Linked DNA regions of Homo sapiens: region 2 is linked to region 1. The links come from fine-mapping of genetic effects on gene expression. Tissue or cell type: whole blood. Region 1 holds a variant in brackets; the other region holds the start of a gene. All regions are shown on one strand. Distances are from middle to middle.

Region 1 (8,101 bases):
TTCTCCTGCCTCAGCCTCTGGAGCAGCTGGGACTACAGGCGTGCGCCACCATGCCCGGCTAATCTTCGTATTTTTAGTAGAGACGGGGTTTCACCATGTTGGCCAGGCTGGTCTTGAACTCCTGACCGCAGGTGATCTGCCCGCCTCGGCCTCCCAAAGTGCTGGGATTACAGGCGAGAGCCACCACTCCCGGCTAGGAATATTTTCAGAAATAATTCCCAAACCCTCAAGGATGGGTCCATCTCTTGCTGCATCCGAGCATTTGTGCCAGGCACTGTGGGGCAAAGCATTCGTCCACTCACTTCGTAAGTATTTACTGAGAGCATCCCATGCACACGTATCTACCAGGCTAGCTGCTGGAGATTCTATAGGCAGACCTGGTCGTGGCCTTCATGGGGCTCAGAGTATGGCAAAGCAGATAGTGGGGAAAAACATCACAACAGATGTGGTAAGTGTTACAAAAGGGAAGTAGAGGACACTGTGAGAGATTATGACTAGGGAACCAACCTAGCCCTGTTCAAGAAAGGCCTTCCTGGCCAGGCACGGTGGCTCATGTCTGTAATCCTAGCATTTTGGGAGGCGAAGATGGGTGGATCACTTGAGGTCAGGAGTTCGAAACCAGCCTGGCCAAATGGTGCAACCCATCTCTACTAAAAATACAAAAAAAAAAAAAAATTTAACGGGGCATGGTGGCGGGTGCCTGTAATCCCAGCTACTCGGGAGGCTGAGGCAGGAGAATTGCTTGAACCCGGGAGGCAGAGGTTGTGGTGAGCCAAGATCGCACCCCTGCACTCCAGCCTGGGTGACAGAGTGAGACTCCATCTAAAAAAAAAAAAAAGAAAGGCCTTCCTAAAGAAGAAGCATTTTAGCTGAGAGCTGCAGGATACTTAGGACTCAGCCAGGCAAAGAGAGGAAGTGTTCTAGTTATAATGGGTGCATACCAAATTTCTCCAATGCTTATTGGCATAAAACAGCCGTTTATTACAATCACGAGTTCCCTGGGTCAGGAATTCAGGCAAGACACCACAGGTGGCTTATCTCTGCACCAGTGTCTGGGGACTATCTGGAGCACTTAAAGGCAGAAACCTGGAATCATCTAAAGGTGGTGGTTGATGTCCGCTGTTGGCTAGGGGCCTCAGCTCCTCTGCACGTGGGCTTCTTTGAGTGATCGCTCCACGTGGGCCAGTTTGGGCTTCCTCAGCACAGGACTAGGTTCCAAGGGCAAACATCCCAAGAAAGAGACTCAGGCAGAAGTAGTATCACCTTTTATGACCCAACTTCAGTAGTCACTCGGCATTCTGTCTCCTGCATTCTAGTTGTTGAGGCGGTCAATAAGAGTCCCATTCCATTTCAAGGGGAGGGGAAACAAAAACAGACTCCATCTCTTGATGAGGAAGCGGCAAGATTCTGGAATAGCAGAAATATTGCCATGGCCGTTTTAGGAAAGCACAATCTACCACAGAGGGAAGAGTGTTTCAGTGTGGGAGAATGCTTCAGCAAAAATCTTCCGGTGAGAGAAGGCAGGGCCCACCCTAAGACAGAAAAGAAGCCTGGTAAGGCTAGCCAAGAGGAGACTGGTAGAAAATGAGGCTTACGAGGTCAAAAACCAACATCCTCATTCTTGGGCTGAGGAAGTGTATCATCTTAACAGCTATGGTGCCTCCCTTCTATTTAATGCTTTATAAGCGACAAAGCGATGCCTCAGTTCTTTCCTCATTTGTTTCAAACAACAGTCCTGTGAGGGACGTATGCTTAGCCCTATAAAGACGAAGAAACTAAGCATCAGTGACATGAAGTGGAAGGCAACACAGTGGGGCAGGACTACTCACAGCAATTTTAGGTGTCACATGGATAAACATTTTACATGTTAATAGTTAATGTCTCCTGGTATGATTCCATCCTGAGCGGCTGTTCTCTTGAGCAGCGTTCATTTATCTCCGTCTGCCTTCTGTCCCACCTAAGTGTGTGCCGCCACCCAATAGAAGATTCGATGGACATGGACATGAGCCCCCTGAGGCCCCAGAACTATCTTTTCGGTTGTGAACTAAAGGCTGACAAAGATGATCACTTTAAGGTGGATAATGATGAAAATGAGCACCAGTTATCTTTAAGAACGGTCAGTTTAGGGGCTGGTACAAAGGATGAATTGCACATTGTTGAAGCAGAGGCAATGAATTACAAAGGCAGTCCAATTAAAGTAACACTGGCAACTTTGAAAATGTCTGCACAGCCAACAGTTTCCCTTGGGGGCTTTGAAATAACACCACCAGTGGTCTTAAGATTTAAGTGTGGTTCAGGGCCAGTGCATATTAGTGGACAGCACTTAGTAGCTGTGGAGGAAGATGCAGAGTCAGAAGATGAAGAGGAGGAGGATGTGAAACTCTTAAGTATATCTGGAAAGCGGTCTGCCCCTGGAGGTGGTAGCAAGGTTCCACAGAAAAAAGTAAAACTTGCTGTTGATGAAGATGATGATGATGATGATGATGATGATGATGATGATTTTGATGATGAGGAAGCTGAAGAAAAAGTGCCAGTGAAGAAATCTATATGAGATACTCCAGCCAAAAATGCACACAAGTCAAATCAGAATGGAAAAGACTCAAAACCATCATCAGCACCAAGATCAAAAGGACAAGAATCCTTCAAAACACAGGAAAAAACTCCTAAAACACCAAAAGGATCTAGTTCTGTAGAAGACATTAAAGCAAAAATGCAAGCAAGTATAGAAAAAGGGGGTTCTCTTCCCAAAGTGGAAGCCGAGTTCATCAATTTTGTGAAGAATTGCTTCTGGATGACTGACCAAGAGGCTATTCAAGATCTCTGGCAGTGGAGGAAGTCTCCTTAAGAAAATAGTTTCAACAATTTGTTAAAAATTTTCCATCATATTTCATTTCTGTAACAGTTGATATCTGGCTGTCCTTTTTTTTTTTTTTTACTTTTGTTTGGCAATTGCAAAATTTATTTTATACAGAAAATATTTCACTTAATTTGAATAAAATCTTTTTTTCCATTAAAGTTTTTTTTAATTTTATTACTATTATACTTTAAGTTTTAGGGTACATGTGCACAACGTGCAGGTTTGTTACATATGTATACATGTGCCATGTTGGTGTGCTGCACCCATTACCTCGTCATTTAGCATTAGGTATATCTCCTAATGCTATCCCTCCCCCCTGCCCCCACCCCACCACAGTCCCCAGTGTGTGACGTTCCCCTTCCTGCGTCCATGTGTTCTCATTGTTCAATTCCCACCTATGAGTGAGAACATGCGGTGCTTGGTTTTTTGTCCCTGCGATAGTTTGCTGAGAATGATGGTTTCCAGCTTCATCCATGTCCCTACAAAGGACATGAACTCATCATTTTTTATTGCTGCATAGTATTCCGTGGTGTATATGTGCCAGATTTTCTTAATCCAGTTTATCATTGTTGGACATTTGGGTTGGTTCCAAGTCTTTGCTGTTGTGAATAGTGCCACAATAAACATACGTGTGCATGTGACTTTATAGCAGCATGCTGCTATAAAGTCACATGGCTGTCCTTTTTATAATGCAGAGTGAGAACTTTCCCTACCGTGTTTGATAAATGTTGTCCAGGTTCCATTGCCAAGAATGTGTTGTCCAAAATGCCTGTTTAGTTTTTAAAGATGGAACTCACCCTTTGCTTGGTTTTAAATATGTATGGAATGTTATGATAGGACATAGTAGTAGCGGTGGTCAGACATGGAAATTGTGGGAAGACAAAAATATGCCTGTGAAATAAAACTCAATATTTTAATAAAGTAAAAAAAAAAAAAAAAGTTAATGTCAGGCCAGGTGCGGTGGCTCATGCCTGTAATCCCAGTACTTTGAGAGGCCATGACGGGTGGATCACCTGAGGTCAGGAGTTCGAGATCAGCCTGGCCAACATGGTGAAACCCCATCTCAACTAAAAATACAAAAATTAGCCGGGCGTGATGGTGGGTGCCTGTAATCCCAGCTACTTAGGAGGCTGAGGCAGGAGAATCGCTTGAACCTGGGAGGCGGAGGTTGCAATGAGCTGATATTGAGCCACTGCACTCCAGCCTGGGCAACACAGCGAGACTCTGTCTCAAAAAAAACAATAACTTGTACAACTTGCGACCTGTGTCCTGTGAGCTGCATACGGCCCACAATGGCTTTGAATGCGGCCCAACACAAATTCATAAATTTTCTTAAAATATTATGAGATTTTAGGCCAGGCACGGTAGCTCATGCCTGTAATCCCAGCACTTTGGGAGGCCAAGGCAGGCGGATCACGAGGTCAGGAGTTCGAGACCAGCCTGGCCAAGATGGTGAAACCCCGTCTCTACTAAACATACAAAAAATAGCCAAGTGCAGTGGCAGGCGCCTGTAATCCCAGCTACTCGGGAGGCTGAGGCAGGAGAATCACTTGAACCCAGGGGGCAGAGATTGCAGTGAGTTGAGATCACACCACCGCATTCCAGCTTGGGTGACAGTTTTTTGTTTTTGTTTTTGTTTTTTAAGCTCATCAGCTATCATTAGTGTATTTTAGTTAGTGTTTAGTTTAGTTAGTGTGGCCCAAGACAATTCTTCTTCTTCCAGTATGGCCCAGGAAGCCAAAAGATTGGATGCCCTGGTAGAAGGTCTGTGACTATGGTCATAATGATAAAGATGGAAGGTAAATGAGGAGCGTTTAAGAAATACTGGCAAAGGATTCAGCGCCTGGGATCTGGAACGAGAGCAAATCCTGGCTAGTTTCCAAAAGTAAACATCCCAACAAAGACCCAGGCAAGTTATTTAGCTTCCCTGTGCCTCAGTTTTCTCATCTTTAAAATGAAAATAGGCTGGGCATGGTGGCTCATGCTTGTAATCCTAGCACTTCGGAAGGCCAAGGTAGGAGGATTGCTTGAGACCAGGAGTTCGAGACCAGCCCTGGCAACATAGCGAGACCCTTGTCTCTATACAAAATTTAAAAAATAAATTATGGCCAGGTGCACTGTCTCATGCTTGTAATCTTTTGGGAGGGCAAGCCAAGAAGATCACTTGAGCTCAGGAGTTTGAGATCAGCCTGGGCAACATTGTGAGACTCCTTTTCTAAAAAAAGAAAAAAA[A/G]AGAGAGAAAAAGAAAGTTAAAAAAAAAAAAGGCCAGGCATCATAGCACACACCTGTAGTCCTAAGCTACTCAGGAGGCTAAGTTGGAGCGATCGCTTGACCCCAAGAGATCCAGGTGGCAGAGCCATGATTACACCACTGCACTCCAGCCTGGGTGACAGAGGGAGAGAGAGACTCTGTATCAAATAAATAAATAAATAATAAATAAATAAAATGAAAATAATTATATTACCTCCTTTCATAGGGTTGTCATGAAGACTAAATTAGTTGATATTTGTATAGTGCCTACAATAGTTCTTGGCACTTAGTAAGTTCTGCATAAGTGTTTGTTAAATAACTAAATTAAATTAACTGACTTAAGCATAAAAGGGAATGTCCTGGCTCTTCTAACTAAAAAGTTCATGGGTATCTGTCTTCAGGGTGGATCTGAGAGCTCAAAGTTTGTCATCAGCTCTCTCTATCTCTCTCCTTTGCTCCCTCCTGCACCTCCCACCCTGCAACATCGCAGCTCTGCTCTGCGTTGATCTGTCCTCAGGTGACCTCCCACCCAGCATTGGCAAGGTGGCTACGGTAGCTCCAGGGTTATATCCTCATAGCTACCAGCCCAGAGGAAAGAGATACCTCTTTGCCATTGTTGTAGGAAACTTACATATGCAGCCTAGAATCCAGGAGGTGAAGCCAAGTTCCCCAAACCTCGTGGACTGAATGTGTGGGAGGCATGGACCCTTAAGGAAAATCCAGGTGTTCTTCAAAGAAGAAAAGAGATCAGATGCTGGATAGAAAAACAAGCTAACAAAAATTTGAAGTCTGGGACTGGGCATGGTGCCTCAGCACTTTGGGAGGCTGAGGCAGGAGGATCGCTTGAGCCTAGGAGTTTAAAACCAGCCTGGGTAACATAGCAAGACCCCATATCTATAAAAAACAAAACAAAACAAAACAAAAAAAGAAAGAAAGAAAGAAAATAAAGTCCACTATACTACGTAACTTTGTAAATTATCTTAGCTCTCTGAGCCTCAGTTTCCTTGTATGTAAATGACAATCCATGACGGTGCCCACACAATAAAACCGTGGTAAGGATTAAATGAGTTAAACATCTATTACTGACGTTTAGCACCATACCAGGCAAACAGTAAGTACTCAAGAAATGTTAGTTATTATTCTGGAAGTTGCTCTCTGAGGTAGCGTGTGGGTCAGTGTCCTCTTTGTGAGATTTCATTTCGGTGTACCGCAGCCAGGGCCAGAAAGTGCAGAAGGTTATGGTACAGCCCATCAACCTCTCTTCAGATATTTACAAAACAGATCCCGGATTCAGGTATGGCTCTATGAGCAAGTGAATATGCGGATAGAAGGCTGTATCATTGGTTTTGATGAATATATAAACCTTGTATTAGATGATGCAGAAGGGATTCATTCTAAAACAAAGTCAAGAAAACAACTGGGTTGATATTTCTTTTTTTTCTTTTCTTTTTTTTTTTTTTGAGACGGAGTTTCGCTCTTGTTGCCCAGGCTGGAGTGCAACGGTGCAATCTCAGCTCACCACAACCTCCGCCTCCTGGGTTCAAGCGATTCTGCTGCCTCAGCCTCCCGAGAAGCTGAGATTACCAGTGTGCGCCACCACACCCGGCTAATTTTGTATTTTTAGTGGAGATGGTGTTACTCCATGTTGGTCAGGCTGGCCTCGAACTCCCAATCTCAGGTGATCTGCCCGCCTTGGCCTCCCAAAAAGTGCTGGAATTACAGGCGTGAGCCACCACGCCCGGCCTAGACTTTCTATCATCTTCTTCTAACAGCAATCCCTCTTCTCTGTGTAGTATTTTACGGTATACAAAGAGACTTCACCTGCATTTTTAAAATTTGATCCTCACAATAACATTCTAACTTTTTGCAAAGGTTACACAGTTGGAGAACTGGAAACTCAAGGAACCATGCATCCATCCACTTCCTCCACAAATATGAAGTGTATACCACATTCTGTGGGGAATGGCTCCTCCTCATGCTCCAGCTTCCTTCCATATTTCCACTCATCTATACCCTAGAGCAGGGTTTTTCAAGTTGCAGGTCATTATTCATTAGCAGGTCATGAAATCAATTTAGTGAGCCATTATCAGCAATTTAATTTTTTTGACGAAATAGAAAACACCCGGTGCATCCCAAATAGTGCACCAGAATACCGTTTTGTGAGACTCTTATTCAATTACACATCTGCATATATACGTGGATACTGGGTCACAATGTAAAATGGATTTCTCTTTGTAAGACATTGTTAAAGAGGTCGAAAACTGTTGACTAGCAGAGCATCTGAAACTTTGTGGTCCCAAGACCCCTTTACAATCTTAAAAATTATTGAGAACCCTCCAAAAATGTCTGTTTTTTGTAGATTATGTCTATTGATATTTACCATACTGGAATTAAAACTGAAAAAATTTCACAGGAATACTCAGGCACAGATACCATTAGTCATGAGATTGATATAATCACTTGTCTTGTAGCCTCTGGAAAACTCCACTGTACCTTCATGAGAGAACCACTGTGGAAAAGGCAAATAACTTTTTAGCACTATTATGGATATTGTTTTGACTTTGCAGACCCACTGAAAAGGTCTTGGAGGAATGGACTACAGGACATCTTTGTCTAAATGTTTCTGCCAAATTTCTTTTCTTTTTTTTTTTTTTTTGAGGCGGAGTCTTGCTCTGTTGCCCAGGCTGGAGCGCAGTGGTGCAATCTCAGCTCACTGCAAGCTCCACCTCCCAGGTACACACCATTCTCCTGCCTCAGCCTCCCGAGTAGCTGGGACTACAGGTGCTCACCACCATGCCCAGCTAATTTTTTTTTGTATTTTTAGTAGAGACAGGTTTTCACCGTGTTAGCCAGGATGGTCTCGATTTCCTGACCTCGTGATCTGCCCACCTTGGCCTCCCAAAGTGCTGGGATTACGGGCTTGAGCTACCGTGCCCGGCCCAAATTTCTAATTCACCCTTTCCAAAGCAAACTCATCATCTTCTTTTCCAAACC
Region 2 (8,101 bases), 130 kb after region 1:
CCTAAGGCCCCGTCTCTTAAAAAAAAAAAAAAAAAGTCACCAACAGTTAGCGAGTGCTTACTCTGTGCTAGGCCTTGTAATAAAATACCATCTTAGCCTCACAACAGCCCTGCAACAAGGTAAGTGCCATCATCCCATTTTACAGATGAAGAAGTAAGCAGAGAAGTAGTGATTTGCTCCGGGTCACAGAGGTAGGAAGAGTGGAACTATGGTTCAAACCCAGCAGCTGGGCTCCAGAGCCCCCACTCAGAGCCACCCTGTGCGATGGCCTCACTGGAGCACAGGAGTGGAAATGAGAGGTGCTGTGATGCGAAAGGAGAATGGCCGCGGAGGTGAAAAACAAGCTCTCCTGACAGCAGCAGGCCTGTGAGATGGCTATTGTCCCCACTTCATAAAGGAAGAGAGTGAGGCTTACAGGGATTGTCATTGATCCCAGGCCACAGGGAACCATGCGGCAGAGCCAGATTTTAACCCAGATCTGCTGGCCTCTAGGACCCTGCCTCTTAATGTCCCTCTTAACAGAGGGATGTTGCCTAGAGACTGGCTGCAGCGCAGGGGCACTGAACTCTGGAGGAGGCTGAGCTAGTCCTGGAGCTGGGGAAAAGTATTCCCACAGGGAGCACAGAAGGCCCAGGGGTGTTGAAGGACAGGAAATAGCCCACAGCTAAGGCTCTACGGGTATAGGTGACGAAGGGGAGAAAGCCAGAGTAAGGGCAGCAATCCTGAGGGTCAGGCTGAGGGCCAGGCTGTCCTGGGAAGTGGTGAGACTTCCATCTCAGGACGTGTCTAAAGGGGACTGGACTGGTTTAGAAATGTATGAATGGGCCCGAGGGATGGCCTGGCTGTCTGCTGGCACCTTCCAAACCAGAGGATGACAAAGAAAAGTACGTTTGAAAGTTGTGCAACATAGGGCCAGAGTGGCCTTGTGTGGCCGCAAGGAGGCAGGAGAAGAGGAGGCTTCCAGAAGAGGCTGAGCGGGGACTGAGACCTGGGCAGGGGGAGGACAGCAGAGACACACAGATGGGAGGGCACCTGGAGTGAAGTGTGGACAGCATCTGGAGGTGGCAGGAAGCAGCAGGAGGCCAGGGGCCAGGATGATGGGGGCTGGTTACAGAGGTGGAAACTTGGAAATAGGTTTCAAGTGGGGAAGAGGCCAGAGGAATGCAGGTTGAGACACAGCAGGAGAGATGGCTGGAAGTATCAGCGTCAGGGAGTCACAGCTATAGGAAGGACAGGAGAGCAGAGAAAGGAAGGGAAATTTAGAAACCCGAAGACCAGATAATGAAGTTTCATGCCTTCCAGGAGGAAGAGCTGCTAAGGAGGTGAGAGGAGGGCAGAGAAACATCCTTGGGGGCGCCAGGACCAGGATGGCAGGAAGGGGTGTGGATGTTCTTGGCCACTCTCCTTCCATTTTGAGGGCCTTAATGAAGGAGGCAGCATCACAGTAATGGTCCCACAGCAGCTGCTCCATGGGTATTGCATGTGTGGGTGCATAAATGCATTAATCAAGAGTACTGGGGTCTGGGCAAGGTGGCTCACGCCTGTAGTCCTAGCACTTTGGGAGGCTGAGGCAGGCAGATCACATGAGACCAGGAGTTCGAGCCCAGCCTGTCCAACATGGTGAAACCCCATCTCTACTCAAAATACAAAAATTAGCCAGGCGTGGTGGCGGGCGCCTGTAGTGCCAGCTACTCGGGAGGCTGAGGCATGAGAATCACTTGAACCCAGGAGGCGGAGGCTGCAGTGAGCCAAGCCAGCCTGGGCGACAGAGCAAGACTCCATCTAAAAAAAAGAAAAAAAAAAGTCTGCAAGGATCTCACTGAATTTTAGTGAAAACCCTCTAAGGAGAGATTACCCCCATTTAACAGATGAGAAAAATAAGATTAATTTGCAAAAAATAAGTAGGGAAGCCTCCACTGTGGTTCTGAGGTGGAGGAGGGTCCTCTGTCTCTCAGTGGTGGTGGGAGTCGGTTCTGATTACAGGAAGGAAGAGTGGGTGTTTAGTTTTCTTTTCTTTTCTTTTCTTTTTTTTTTTGTGACGGAGTCTCGCTCTGTCGCCCAGGCTGGAGTGCAGTGGTGCGATCTCGGCTCACTGCAAGCTCCACCTCCCAGGTTCATGCCATTCTCCTGCCTCAGCTACTCGGGAAATAGCTGGGACTACAGGCAGCCGCCACCACGCCCAGCTAATTTTTTTTGTATTTTTAGTAGAGATGGGTTTTCACCGTGTTAGCCAGGATGGTCTTGATCTCCTGACCTCGTGATCCACCCGTCTCGGCCTCCCAAAGTGCTGGGATTACAGGTGTAAGCTACCACGCCCAGCCTTGTTTGCTTTTCTGAGACGGAGTCTCGCTGTGTTGCCCAGGCTGGAGTGCAGTGGTGCGATCTCGGCTCACTGCAACCTCCGCCTCCTGGGTTCAAGCGATTCTCCTGCCTCGGCCTCCCGAGTAACTGGGACTGCAAGCACCTGCCACCATGCCCGGTTAATTTTTGTATTTTGAGTAGAGACGGGGTTTCACTATATTAGCCAGACTGGTCTCAAACTCCTGTCCTAGAGTGATCCGCCCACCTCGACCTCTTAAAGTACTGGGATTACAGGCATGAGTCACTGTGCCCAGACTGGTTTTGTTTAGAATCCACCCCTTGTCCTGCCTCTCCCAGGGGTCTATGAGGAGCCCACTAATCTTTAATCCATGGCCCTAGGTTCAGGGGAGGGGGTTGGGCCAGGGCAGGCCATGGGAAGTGAAGTGGACTTGGGGGGAGTCAGAAAGCTTTGGTGTGGCCTCTTGTGCCCAAGACAACCCAGGAGGTTCATGGTCCTGAAGCCAATGTAATCTAGGGCCCAAACCTTCTAATCTCAGGGTGGGCAGAATCTAGGTGTAGAATGGGGTGAGTTCAGGGGGGCTCCACATAGACAGAGGGTGTGGGACCCTCACCTTGGCACTAGAAGAGTTCAGGCCTCCTCAAACAGATGGGGCTCAGGACAGCAGAGGGGACAGAGAGGGCTGCTCTGCCAGCATGTCCCAGAAGTGCATGTGGATATAGAGGGCAGCAGCTGCTGAGATGGCCGTGGGCATTAGGCTATGCTGGAGTGGGGACACCTCACCCCGACTATGCCAGCTCGCACCGGGCACTTTCACTTCCCTTAGTATAGGCTCCTTGCACTCTGCTACCCACAGTTTGCATCAGAAGAAATGGAAGAGACCTGCTTAAGGTCACATCACACACCCACTGGCAGAGCAGGGACTCTGCACAGGGTGGTCTAACTGCAAAGTCTGCCATCCTGCCATTCCCCTTGGGGCTGGAAAAGAAAGGTTTCTAACTTGCTTTCAAAGCGAGTTCCTATCAGCCCCGTTGTGGGCAAGGTGGGGCTGCTACCCGTTCTAGAGGGCCTGCTCAGTGGAGCTGGGGCCAAGCTGGGCCTCTCCAGTCGGCTGCGGGGGCGCACCCCCGGGCGCTGGGAGTCCAGGCCCGGTTTTGCATCAGGCCCTGCCGAGGTGTTTCCTCCTCCTCCGTGTGGGGCAGCTGCTGGCTGGGCTGCCTGTTGAGTCAGCCTTCTTCCCTCACGGCTCTTCTCCCGGTCCCTGAAACTCGGCTGCCAGGGGAGCTGGAGCCACCTGCGAAGGTGTCCTCCCATACTGGACCCCTACAGGTAACACGTGTCGGTGCCAGGGTCCCCTGCCAGGGTCCAGAGACGCAGGCACTGCCACCTGGTATCCTGAGCACCCTCCAGCACCTTGGGGTTGGGGGAGGTGGGCACATGTCTGGAACTGGAACAGCTGGACAGATGGACAGACCCTCCTCTTGACCAATGGGTCTGTCCCACCGTGTCAAAACAGCAGAGAAGACCAAACTCCTACCTAACTCTGGTAGGAGATTCTGCCTCTGGTTGGTAGGAGAGGGGACTTCAGGGAGGGGGCACTGCTGAGGACGCTGGGCTGATGCCCATGGCCCAGCTCAGGCAGGCCTGAAGGACAGAAATAGGCTCAGTTCTGCCGAACGTCCCCCCGGCCTCCATCCACACTCAGACACACACACCTGGTGGCCCCCAAGGCACCAGGGGACACCCCACAGCACACAGCCCAGTCACACATACAGCACAGGAGGAAATGCACAATGCATACTGTACACACCCCACACGGCGCTGTCACCTAGAAAGTCACTGAACACACCACACAGACAATATAGTCACCATGCAGCATCACACTGCAACAGGACACAAAGACACACAGCAACTACACAGCTCACAGACTCACGCAACGCAGACATGCCCACCAGACTCGGACCCACACAGCCACACAACAGGGCACAGAGAGGGACGTGGGCTCACACCCCAATCCACAGGGGAGGCCGAACGTGGGCTCACACCCCAATCCACAGGGGAGGCCGAACGTGGGCTCACACGTTGGCCACAGAAGTCCAGGGAAACTGCTGTTGTGGAGCACACAGGTATCCACAGAGTGAATGCACACCGTGCAGCCGTGCTGAGGCCTTCTGCTCCTGAGGGTGTCAAGAGGGATCGCTGGGGCTCGGCCACTGACTCAGCTGGGAGGGGACAGAGCATAGCAGGCGGCGGACACAAGCCAGGACCTGCCCGCCAAGCTGCCTCCGCCGGTCTCAGCCCCACCTGGAGCCGTGGCAATGGAAGGGGCGGGGAAGAGAGGAGAGGCCGCCCAGTGGGCTCAGGACACAGCCCTGACCAAGTCATGGGCCCCTTGCCACGTCTACATGCCCCTCAGCGCTGGGCAAATGCTTTCTTTCCGGAGTCACTGTGGTACCTGAGCATGGGCTGCTGCGCTAGCCTAGGCCTCCACCGCCGGGACCCCAGCCTGGTCTGGGGAGAACTGTGTGGCCAGAACAGAGGGGCCCTGTGGCTCCAGGCAACAGGGCAGGGCTGGCGGCGGGGGCATCCCTGGGTTGGAGGCCTCCGTGGGAGTGGGTGCGGCAGTTACCTCAGGAGAGGAAGTTGGGGGTGTGGGCTGAGGAGGAGGTTGCCTCAGACAGGAAGGCCAAGTGGGCCAGGGCAGGGTGGAGGTGGTGGCAGGAGGGGACCCAGGCTGTGAGGTTCCTGGTGCGGGGGAGTGAGCAGATGTGTGTGTGTGTACGTGTGTGTGTGTGTGTATCTGTCTGTCTAGGTGGGTGGTTGTATGTGTGCATTCCCATGTGTGTGCAGGCATATTTCTGCATTTAATTAATCAAACTTTTACCAACCATCTGTTGTGTGCAAAGTAATGGCTTTGAGGGTGACTCCCTCTCCCTGCCTCCAAGGAGCTCACAACCCAGTTAGCCGGGCAATGTATGTGTGCCAAAGTCTGTATGATTTTTATGTACATCTTTATCGAGGGACATATTTGTCCCCAGACTTGTTCTTGTCTAGGTGAACCCATCCGGGTGGGCCTATCCCCATTGGTGTGCATATGCTGTGTGCAGGTTTTTTTGTTAGTTTTTGTTTTGAGACGGAGTCTCACTCTTGCCCAGGCTGGAGTGCAGTGGCGCCATCTCAGCTCACTGCAACCTCCTTCTCTTGGGTTCAAGTGATTCTCCTGCCTCGCTTCCCAAGTAGCTGGAATTACAGGCATGTACCACCATGCCCAGCTAATTGTTCTGTTCTTTTCATTTTTTTTGGAGGAGTTTCACTCTTTTTGCCCAGGCTGGAGTGCAATGGTGTGATCTCGGTTTACCATAACCTCTGCCTCCCAGTTTCAAGCAATTCTCCCACCTCAGCCTCCCGAGTAGCTGGGATTAAAGGCATGCACCACCATGCCCGGCTAATTTTGTATTTTTAGTAGAGACGGGGTTTCTCCGTGTTGGTCAGGCTGGTCTCAAACTCCTGACCTCAGGTGATCTGCCCGCCTTGGCATCCCAAAGTGCTGGGATTACAGGGGTGAGCCACTGTATCTGGCCATAATTTTTGTATTTTTAGTAGAGAAGGGGGTTTCACCATGTTGGCCAGGCTGGTCTTGAACTCCTGACCTCAGGTGATCGGCCCACCTTGGCCTCCCAAAGTGTTGGGATTACAGGCGTGAGCCACCGCGCCTGGCCACTGTGTGCAGATTTAAGAACATGTGTAGGGCCGGGCGTGGTGGCTCACGCCTGTACTCCCAGCACTTTGGGAGGCTGAGGCTGGCAGATCATGAGGTCAGGAGTTCGAGGCCAGCCTGGCCAACATGGTCAAACCCCGTCTCTACTAAAAATACAAAAATTAGCTGGGCGTGATGGTGCGTGCCTATAATCCCAGCTACTCAGGAGGCTGAGGCAGGAGGTTTGAACCCGTCAGGCAGTGGTTGCAGTGAGATGAGATCGTGCCACTGTACTCCAGCCTGGGCAACAAAGCAAGACTCCTCAAAAAAAAAAAAAAAAAAAAAAAAAAGAATGTGTGTGCATGTCTCTCGTGGGCATGGGTCCGGGTCTGTGTCTGCAGAGGGCCCTTTCTGGGGGAACAGCTGTGCATGCGCCTGTCTTTATGCAGGTGTCTGTGTGCATGTGCGACCATATCTATGCCTACATGGACCCGCGTGTGCACATGTGTCTGTGTGTTCCATCGCTGCAGTCCTGTGTGGCCCTACCTCAGGGTGTGTGCATGTGTGTCTCTTGCTTCTTCCACTGTGTCTCCAAGTGTGTTCAAGGGCTAGTGTATGCATGTGTGCATGAGTGTCTCTCACCCCACCTTGAGCTCAGCCATCCTGGGGTGGCACCCTACCCATACCCGGCCAAGTGTTTGGGGAGAAAAGGGCTGTTGGTTCTAGGATGTGCCAAGCATTTGTGCAGGGCTTGACCTGACCCTCGGTCTGCCCCCAGGAAGCTCCGTGTGCCCAGCTGGGGCACAGCCCCAGCTGATGCCCCAGAGGGGCCACCCATCGCAAGAGGGGCTTTGGGCTCTGCCCTCCCTCCCCATGGCGCATGGGCCAAAGCCTGAGACTGAAGGACTGTTGGACCTCAGCTTCCTGACAGAGGAGGAGCAGGAGGCCATTGCTGGCGTCCTCCAACGAGATGCCCGCCTGCGCCAGCTGGAGGAGGGGCGGGTCAGGTAAGGCAGGGCAGACCCTGGCCGGGGAGCACCAAGAGGCTTGAGTGGCCCCCATCCTGCTCCCTACCGACACCACTGCCTGTCAGATGTCTGCGTGGTTCTTGGTTTTGCCCTTCAGTCTCCTCTGGCCTTGGCCAGCTCACAGCTCATCACTTCTCCAGGGGTGACTGCACCAGCTTTCTCGCCAGCCTCCCTGCCTCCAGGCTTGCCTCTTGGGCCCACCTCCTGCAGCTGGTGCTCCCCAGATCTGTCTGCTTTTTTTTTTTTTTCTTGAGACAGAGTTTCATTTTTTCGCCCAGGCTGGAGTGAAGTGGCACAATCTTGGCTCACTGCAACCTCCACCCCTCCGGGTTCAAGCGATTCTCCTGCCACAGCCTCCCAAATAGCTGGGATTATAGGCACATGCCACCATGCCCAGCTAATTTTTGTATTTTTAGTAGAGATGGGTTTTCGCCATGTTGGCCAAGCTGGTCTTGAACCTCTGATCTCAGATGATCCACCCGCCTCAGCCTCCCAAAGTGCTGGGATTACAGACGCGAGCCACCGTGCCTGGCCAGATCCGTCCTTAATATCCCCGCTGAAAACTTCCCCTGGCTCCCCAGTATCAAGGGCAAGCTCCTAGGCATGGTCCACTGGGCCTCCCTGGTCGGTCCTTGCCAGCCCCCACCATCTCCTCTTTCACCATAACTCCGACCCGACACACAGACACAAAGTGACCCCTCCAGCCACTCAGGTGCTCCCCAGTCCCTGAACCCACTCTTCACTTCTATGCCTATGCTGGTACTTCTTCCTGGAAGAGCACAGTTGTAGAAGAGCATGGGCGTTACAAGCAATGTTTGGGGACAGACACTTCCTAGCTACGTAGCCTTGGCAACTCACCTGACCTCCTTGAGCACCATGCTCGTCGTCTGTAAAATGGGGCTAAGGAGTCCTACTTCACTGATTTAAGAGGAATTGGCCAGAGATAGTGGCAACGCCTGTAATCCTAGCACTTTGAGAGGCTGAGACGGGAGGATTGCTTGAGCCCAGGAATTCAAGACCAGCCTGGACAACACAGTGAGACCCCATTCCTACAAA

The links. PIP is the estimated chance that this variant, and not a neighbour inherited with it, causes the effect.
Region 2: SYTL1 starts here. The variant in region 1 is fine-mapped to the expression of SYTL1 in whole blood (TOPMed, PIP above 0.99).

Annotation. Positions count from the first base shown.
Region 1 is chr1:27,204,952-27,213,052 of GRCh38, forward strand. It overlaps the pseudogene NPM1P39 and the pseudogene SNRPEP7. Among named protein-coding and RNA genes, the nearest start is that of WDTC1-DT, 25 kb to the right of the region's middle. The variant A/G (reference allele first, on the strand shown) is at 5,090.
Region 2 is chr1:27,338,502-27,346,602 of GRCh38, forward strand. It overlaps SYTL1 (synaptotagmin like 1), which reads left to right and starts at 3,521. Exons shown (of 15, transcript NM_001193308.2): 1 at 3,521-3,649; 2 at 6,796-7,024. The coding sequence starts at 6,834. RefSeq lists enhancers at 3,142-3,401, 3,932-3,981, 4,156-4,773, 4,772-4,861.